Regions from separate parts of the Homo sapiens genome. Here regions 1 and 2 are each linked to region 3. The links come from fine-mapping of genetic effects on gene expression. A gene starts in region 3. Each other region holds a variant in brackets. All regions are shown on one strand. Distances are between the middles of the regions. Region 1 holds the start of SLC15A2 (solute carrier family 15 member 2). Region 2 overlaps HCLS1 (hematopoietic cell-specific Lyn substrate 1). Region 3 holds the start of HCLS1 (hematopoietic cell-specific Lyn substrate 1).

Evidence for each region. PIP is the estimated chance that this variant, and not a neighbour inherited with it, causes the effect. A credible set is the group of variants that fine-mapping cannot tell apart.
Region 1: its variant is the best candidate, but not a certain one, in a credible set for the expression of HCLS1 in whole blood (INTERVAL, PIP 0.58).
Region 2: its variant is the best candidate, but not a certain one, in a credible set for the expression of HCLS1 in whole blood (INTERVAL, PIP 0.76).

Annotation. Positions count from the first base shown.
Region 1 is chr3:121,891,741-121,894,504 of GRCh38, reverse strand. SLC15A2 (solute carrier family 15 member 2) reads right to left here and starts at 104. Exons shown (of 22, transcript NM_021082.4): 1 at 1-104. The coding sequence starts at 28. RefSeq lists enhancers at 612-1,144, 1,145-1,678. The variant C/T (reference allele first, on the strand shown) is at 1,545.
Region 2 is chr3:121,638,351-121,641,114 of GRCh38, reverse strand. The region is part of intron 6 of HCLS1 (hematopoietic cell-specific Lyn substrate 1); the gene reads left to right. Among named protein-coding and RNA genes, the nearest start is that of HCLS1, 21 kb to the left of the region's middle. The variant A/G (reference allele first, on the strand shown) is at 1,265.
Region 3 is chr3:121,659,356-121,662,119 of GRCh38, reverse strand. HCLS1 (hematopoietic cell-specific Lyn substrate 1) reads left to right here and starts at 1,217. Exons shown (of 14, transcript NM_005335.6): 1 at 1,217-1,300. RefSeq lists enhancers at 945-994, 1,185-1,374.

The DNA of each region.
Region 1 (2,764 bases), 230 kb before region 3:
TGGACTCATTTTTCTGGAAAGGATTCATGGCTGGCTCCTTACTCTCTCTCTCTCCTCAAGCATTTGGCTTTAGTAGGCAGTTAGGACAGCTGCCAGCCTACTCTGAAAAGAAGGACTGGGAGGGGGAGCTGGTGGCTTCAGCAACTCAGTTTAACTCTGTGGGTGTCAGCTTCAATAGCTTCCTGATCCAGAGCAAAGCAGGAAGCTATAGTTAAAAAGAATGTGTAAAAGTACAGCACAGCAAAGTGAAAACATGCCAAAGACAGAATGAAACAATGCTAGAGAACTGATTAGAAAGTCTATGTTTAAGAAAGATTATCTTTGCAAAGGAGTAGAAGATAGTTAAGAACACAACACCTCGAGCACAGATTGAAAAACTGATTCCATGGTCAGGCGCGGTGGTTCACGCATATAATCCTAGCACTTTGGAAGGCCCAGGCAGGCGGATCGTTTTAGGTCAGCAGCCTGGCCCACATGGTGAAACCCCGTCTCTACTAAAAATACAAAAAAAAAATTAGCTGGGTGTGGTGGCGGGCGCCTATAATCCCAGCTACTCAGGAGGCTAAGGCAGAAGAATCACTTGAACCTGGGAGGCGGAGGTTGCGGTGAGCTGAGATTGCACCATTGCACTCCAGCCTGGGCAACAAGAGCGAAACTCCATTTCCAAAAAAAAAAAAAAAGAAAAACTGATTTCAGGGTAACAATAGCTGTAATTTATTGAACATCTACTATTGAAAGGTTAATATATATGAATTACATCTATGTTGTATATCTATAACATATATATTTATTCTAATTCATATTACTATCCCCATTTTATAGAAAGTAATGTTCCCAGAGGTTAAGAAATTTGTTCAAAGTACCTGTCCACTAAGTGGCAGATCTGGAATTTTCACTATGCCATGACAGCTGGGAAAAGTGGAGTTAGTGTCAGTCATTATTCAGGTATGGAGGTTACATAAATGGAATGTAGGAATGCAGAGGATTAAAATGCATTGGAGAAGGAAAGTCATCATAAAACTGAGTTTGGAAGATAAGAAAGATGGTGAGTTTTGGCTGGGTGCAGAGGCTTACGCCTGTAATCCCAACACTTTGGGAGGCCGAGGTGGGCTGATCACAGCTCAGGAGTTCAAGATTAGCCTGGCCAACATAGTGAAACCCCATCTCTACTAAAAATACAAAAATTAGCTGGGTGTGGTGGCACGCGCCTGTAGTCCCAGCTACTCAGGAGGCTGAGGCAGGAGAATCGTTTGAACCCAAGAGGCAGAGGTTGCAGTGAGCCGAGACCCCACCACTGCACTCCAGCCTGGGCGACGGAGCAAGACTTGAAAGAAAGAAAGAAAAGAAGGGAAAGAAAGGAAAGAAAGAAAGAAAAGAAGGGAAAGAAAGGAAAGAAAGAAAAGAAAAGAAAGGAAGGAAGGAAGGAGACTTTTGTTTTCAACATCATAAAAGTTCAGCTAGAAATAGCCTATAAGCAATTAAAGAGGTGGGGCTAAAGAAAATGAGAGAAAAGGATTGGTGATATACATTTGGGAACCATTGTT[C/T]TTCTTTGCTAAAGTCACTCCTTATATTTTCATTTTCTCACTTCAAGATTAATCTATTCTTTCATTTAATAAATAAAATTTAATTTGAGCAAAAATTGTGAACCAGTTACTTTCTAGGTACTGTTGTGAACACCATTTTCCTTAATTATACATTTAGTCCTTATCAGAAGAGGAACAAGAACAAACATCATAATGCTAGGTGCATTTTATGCTGTGTTATTTTTGTCAAGCCAAAGAAGTAAAAGGATAAGAAAAGAGCATGGTGCCCCTCTAGTTGTTTGTCAAAAGAAAAGGGAAAAGAAAGGCTAGAGAGCTATAAAAGAAATAAGAAAAATGAAGACTAAATCAACAAGGTCAGGCAACATCAGAATGAATTATTTTATTTGAAAATACAAGAGAGAAAACCTATAACTCTATCCCTCACAAAATTTTTACTTTAACTATTCAAATAATTTATTGACAAATAGGGCCAGGATAAACTGTCTTTTCCTCTCTAAACTTTAACTCAGACTTTGACCATATCTTCTCAGCTTCTATTACACCCCTCATTTCTACTGTCTCCCACCAACCTTTACCCAAAGAAGAGTCCAGCTTCATTTCTGACTGTGGCATTAATAATTAAGGTATAGTTATTCTTTCAGGAAGCACTGCCATTTCTGAATTGGTTTGGTTAATGACTTTGGCTGGAAAATAAATGGTCAGAAGTTACTAGTCAAGTTAACTAGCAGAGGCACAGATGCCTTGAAGATCCACTTATGTTGTGGCTTTCCTTGATCTGGCAGAGTAGATGGAATAGCACCTGTATGCAATGTACCAATTTATTTGTGCTCATAGGTATCCCAAATACTAAACTTTGGAGTATTGGCAGTGGTTTTCTGACACTCCTTTGTTTAGACAAAATTCTTCTTTTGATTATGGCAGTATAATGATAGTATTCACAGAATCGAATAATATCAGAGATGGAAGGAATCTTAATCTTGTCCTATGTGAGTGAAACTTCCCTGAGGATAAGAATCATTTTCCTTTGGAAATTCCAATTCAGTAGATCTCGGTAGGGATCTAAGAATCTTTGTTTTCAACGAGCACCTCTAGCAATTCTTACGCTAGGAATTTGGGAAACACTGGTCATAAATTCTCTCCTATTCTATTTCAGAGGAACTCAGAAGGGACAAAGCAAGGACTGGAACCCTAGGCTCCCAAGGCATAGTCTTGAGCCATTT
Region 2 (2,764 bases), 21 kb after region 3:
TTACTGCCCTTTTTCAACCTCAGATGTGACTTTCATTATAGGAAGTTCTCAGGCATTTTCTCTTGGAATAATACCTCTTCTCTCTTCTCTTTATGTCCTTGTGCCGCATTCTGGGTTATTCCTTTAGCTCTAGGTTAAGTTCACTAATTCTTCCTTTAGCTGTATTTCATTATTGTTTAAGCTGTCCATTGCATTTTAAACTTTCTTTCAAATATCTTCCCTTCCCTTCCTTTCCCTTCTCTTCCCTGCCCTGCCCTGCCCTGCCCTGCCCTGCCCTCCCGTCCCCTCCCCTCCCCTGCCCTCCCCTCCCCTCCCCTCCCCTCCCCTCCCCTTCCCTTGCCTTCCCTCTCTTTTTTTAGATAAAGTCTTATTATGTTGCCCAGGCTGGCCTCAAACTCCTGGGCTGAAGTGATCCTTCTGCCTTGGCCTCCCAAAGTGCTGGGATTACAGGCATGAGCCACCACATCAGATATTTTCATTTCTGGAGTTTCTTTTGGTTCTATTGCATATCTGCTGATTCATTTTCCATAAGACATTATGGTTTCATTATGGTTCCCTGTGCCACTTCTTTAAGCTGTTTAATTATTTTAAACATGTACTTTGCAGTTTCTTTCATATTTTATATTATTTGCAGTTCTTGGCTGTGCCATTTCTTCTGACTAATCTGCGTTCCTCATGGTTATTTATTTCCTTGATGGTTTGTAATCTTGTTTATAAACTTATTTTAGTGAAGGAGAGGGATATTTGTTTTATGAGAATTTCATGTGCCCTGGGTTTAGTAAGTACCTCATCCAGGGAAATATTGCCTCTACTTCTGGCTCAACTCTAGAGGTCTTAATAGTAACGGACATTTTTTTTCCTTTATTATTATTTTTTCCCATGGAGTTCAAGTCTTTCTGGTTTTTAAGTTGGTTATGGTATGTTGTGCTTTTCAAGGAATTTGTTCATTTTGTCTGTGTTGTCAGGTTTATTGGCATAAATTCATTTATAATATTCTCTTCTTTTTAACTTCTGTAAGATTTCTAGTGATATGAAATGCCTATTTTCATTTCTGATCTTACTTACTTGTGTTTTTTCTCTTTTTAATTATTCTTACTAGAAGTTTATCAATTTTATTACTCTTTCCAAAGAACAAGCTTTTGGCTTTGCTAATTTTCTCTATTATTTACTTGTTTTAAAAAATGTATTGGTTTCTGCTCTTATCTTTATTATGTTTTTCTTCTACTTAGTATTAATTTAGTTTGTTCTTTTCCTAGCCTCTTAA[A/G]GTAGAAACTTAGATAATTGATTTTAAGCCTTCCTTTACTATATGGGCACTTGAAAAGCTATACATTTCCCTCTGAACACTACCTTCATTTGCTACAAACATTTGCTACATTCAACAAATATTTGAATGTGTGTGTTTTAATTTTCATTCATCACAAACCCGTGGTCCCAGCTATTCAGGGGACTAATGTGGGAGGATCACTTGAGCCCAGGAGGTTGAGGCTGCAGCAAGCCATGATTGTGCCACTACATTTTGGCCTGGGCAACAGAGTGAGACCCTGTCTCAAAAAACAACAACAACAACAACAACAACAACAACAAAAAATAAAATCATTCAGTTAAAAATATTTTCTTATTTCCCTTGTAATTTCTTCTTTGACACATGTATTATTTAAAAGCTGTTATTGATTTTCTGAGCATCAGGGAAATTTTCTAGATAATTTTATTGGTATTGACTTCTACTTTAATTCTATTGTGATCAGAATATGATCTCTGATATTTCAGTCTTTTGAAATGTACTGAGACTTACTGTCTTAGAGACTTATGGACTGGCACATGGTCTATTTGGTCAATGTTCTATATGCATGAAAAAAGTATATTCTGTAGTTTGGGGTATAGTGTTGTATAAGAGTCAATTAGGTTTATTAGTTGATAATGTTTGGATCTTCTATAATTTTACTGATTCGTTTTTGCCTAAAATACCTATTAATTAATGAAAGAATGGTGTTAAATGTTCAACTACTATTACAGATTTGTCTATTTCTCTTTCTACTTCTGTCAGCTTTTGCATTATTTGTGTGTGTGTGTGTGTGTGTGTGTGTGTGTGCGTGTGTGTGTGTGTTGGAGTCTTGCGATGTTTCTCAGGCTGGTCTCGAACTCCCGGGCTCAAGTCACCCTCCTGCCTCAGCCTTCTGAGTAGCTGGGACTACAGGCATTCACCACACCTGGTTTTTTACATTTTTCTTTTATTTGAGAGCTTCATGAATTTTGGTTCTGTGAATAGGTTTATGCCAGCATACATACTCCTGATGTAAGGTATTGTTCTTTTATCATTGGAGCATGTCTTTCTTGTCTCTTAGAATGCACTTTGTCTTGAGATCACTTTATCTCATATTCATGCCATCTTTCTTATGCTTACTCTTTCCAAAATGTATATTTTCCTGGATCAGTATTTAGTTAATTTCTCAGCTTAGAATTCCTGCATCACATAAGTGGAAAAAAAATGTGTATTTGCATTCTACACTCAGATGTAGGCTTGGAGTTTCCAAGTCTCATAAGCAAATTTTCCCCCTATCAAATATTGAACAGGTTACAAGCCCCCTTCATGATTTTCCTGAGTAAATGAGTAGAATTTTTCTAGCACTCTCTTATAGGAGTGGACAGAGCTTCGTTTCTGGCTTTCTTCCCTCCTCCCCCATTCTTAAATGGAAATTAGAATCACAGAGCCTCGATCCTAATCCCTATTCATTACATTTGGAATTTAAAATCTGACCAGGTGTGG
Region 3 (2,764 bases):
TTTGGTACCACCATGATAAATAGGTAATAAAGTAGAAGGAATAAATAAAGCTCCCCCAGGCATAGAATCCTTAGATTTGGAAGTGACAGAGGCTTCATATTCCTAATGCAGAAAAGTGCCTGTATCATGGGCCAGTTTCATCCAGTCCTGCTTAAACTCCTTGGAGGATGCACCGTTGTGAACAAATCAAGAAGTCCACAATCAAGATTAGGAAAGGCTAGGTCAGATACAATAACAGACACCCTCAAATTCTCAGTAGCCAAAACAAAGGACTATTTTTTAGTGAAAGACTCCAATTCCCCCACATGGTGGATGGGGCTCCACTTGTGTTCTTTCTCACTCAGGGACCCAGTCTGCTGGAGGAGCCAATATGGAGAATTGCAGGTTGCCTTGGGCAGTGGTGAAAGCATGGCAAAGCTTGCAGTGGTCTTACGGCCTCCGCCAGAAAGTGGTATCTGTCACTGGCCAAAACAAGTCACCTGAGTAAGTCTGACTTCAAGAGGGAAGGGAGGGGCAGCAAGTCTTGACACGCAGTAAAACAGGATACCACAAAGACCTTCTTCCATCAGCTGACCAGCACCTGGTTCTTTCAGAATTCTTCCTACGCTCTAGAGCCAAATCTTTAGTTTGTTAGCTCAGACTCCACAGTGCCCCAAACAAGCTAGGAAACTCTCCTTCCATGTCTTGCCTTTTCCCTCATGAGTTATTCTCTTCTGGCATTCAATTGGTCGACGTTTATTTGAACATCTATATGAAAACTCCACTTTTAAGTGCTGTGGGTAATATAGGGGTGAGTTTCTTTTTAAGTCTTATGCTTCAAAACCCACATATAAATCACTTTTCCCATAAAGCCTTTCTTGATGAATACACCCAATACCAAATGCTCTGAATTCCTTTACTGTCTCAAATGTAACTGCCACCCTATTTAGGACACAATGCTGTTCTACAGCATTCTCTAATGTGTTTTCTGGTTGAATGTTTGTTTCTCTCACTGGATTACAAACTCAGAGTCAAAGCAGCATTTTCTATGACTGCTCTATGACCCCCATTGTCAAAACCTTGCAAAAGACCAGGCACAGAAACATTTAATCCTTTTAAAATTTAAGTGTCTAAAGCAGAAGGAACTGACTCAAATTTCAGGAAGTAGCTGTGAGGATGGGGTGGCAGGAAATGACGAAAACCTGAATACGGAACTGAAGCAGCAGCTCAGTTTCTCACTCCGAAGTGGCAGCAGCCAGAGAGGGAGTCGGTGTGGACGCGAGGAGCCGGGCGCTTAGAACAGAGGCTTGCACAGGTGGAGGTGGGTACTCTGAGCCATGGGACAGTTGGGAAACACAGAGTAAGAGTTGAGGAGGAACCTACCTGGCTCTTAGTCCTTGGTGATGGGCAAGGTCACCACTAGTAGGCTTTTATCCTTTTATGGCCAGAAGGCCTGGTTGTGAGTGGTTGTAGCAAATCAGCATCTGGAGATAGAAACAAAAGGGAGGGGCTTAAACCCAAGGCAAGTGTTTCAGGAGCCATCTAGCACCAACATCAAGCAAAGTGTTGCCTGGTTTCTGCTGACAATCTACAACCCACTCTAAGGCCTGTCTCCCCTAGGTACTGAGCTGGGAGGAGGACCACAGGAGACGAAAACAGTGTCTGCCCTTGAAGAGCATATGGTCTCAGGGAAACAAACCCACACAGGAAATGTAACAGATCAGGAAGTAGTCACTGATGTACACTAGCACTGAGTACCAAGTGCTGATGGAGCCCAAGAGAAGGCATGATTGTTCTGCTGGGGCTAGTTTCTGTGTTCGTAGATCACAGAATCTCAGAATGTCAGAAATCAAGGAGACCACAGATGAGCTACGTTAACCCCTTCATTATTTTCCACTGGGAAAATCAGAGATAATTGCTGATTTGCCAAATTATTAAAGTTAGTATTTCTTAATCGCCTGGTCTGATACCTGGCAAATGAGTACCTACTCTGTTGATGCCCTTGTGATGGTCCCTCAGAGGCTTAGTCACAGAGCTGGGGTGACAGCCAGGGCTTCTGACTCCCAGTCTGTGTACTTTGATGCAGGAGGTCAGCATCGCAACAAGGCCTCACCAGATTACTCTCTGGTTCTCACCTCTAGATAGCACTTCTTACCTTTCTGGTTTCTGGTCAATAGGTCAAGGATATTAGATAAATTGTCTCTATTTCAGAAACTCTTTATTTCAAAAATGGGTGAATGGGAGAGTCAGGCTGAGGCCTCAGAGGAGCCACAGGAAGGAGGATGGGACCATCAGTCCTCATTGCTTCCTTATTGCTCATGACTATTTCAGAAACTTCTCCATTCCAGTTTTCTGTGTGACAGTCCTTTTGTTGTTGCACAGCAGCCCAGGAGCCAGGGGATGAGAAGCAGAGGGGTAGTAAGGATGCAGGTAGTAAGGATGTTTTGCTGTCTCCAACCGCATCAGGGAAAGCCAAGCTGCTTTCAGCCATGACTCCCGGCTGACTCAGTCAATATCTCTCCGGTGTCCCCTTAGCATCTCTTTAACTGATTTACCCAGACTTCCCCTGGGCTGGTTTTTAAGAGGTTGCTCAATGGAGAAGATGGAGCTTTCAAGTGGAAATAGAAAACTGGAGAATCTGAAGGCCTAGGTGGAGACAGGAGAACCCGAGGAGTGGTTGTAAAGGGACTCTTTGGAGACGATGGAGAGCATGGGGAAGGTCTCCAATGGGATGAGGTGTCTGAGGAGGGAAGGATTGCCAGCTAGCAAGTGCTGCCAGGGTCAA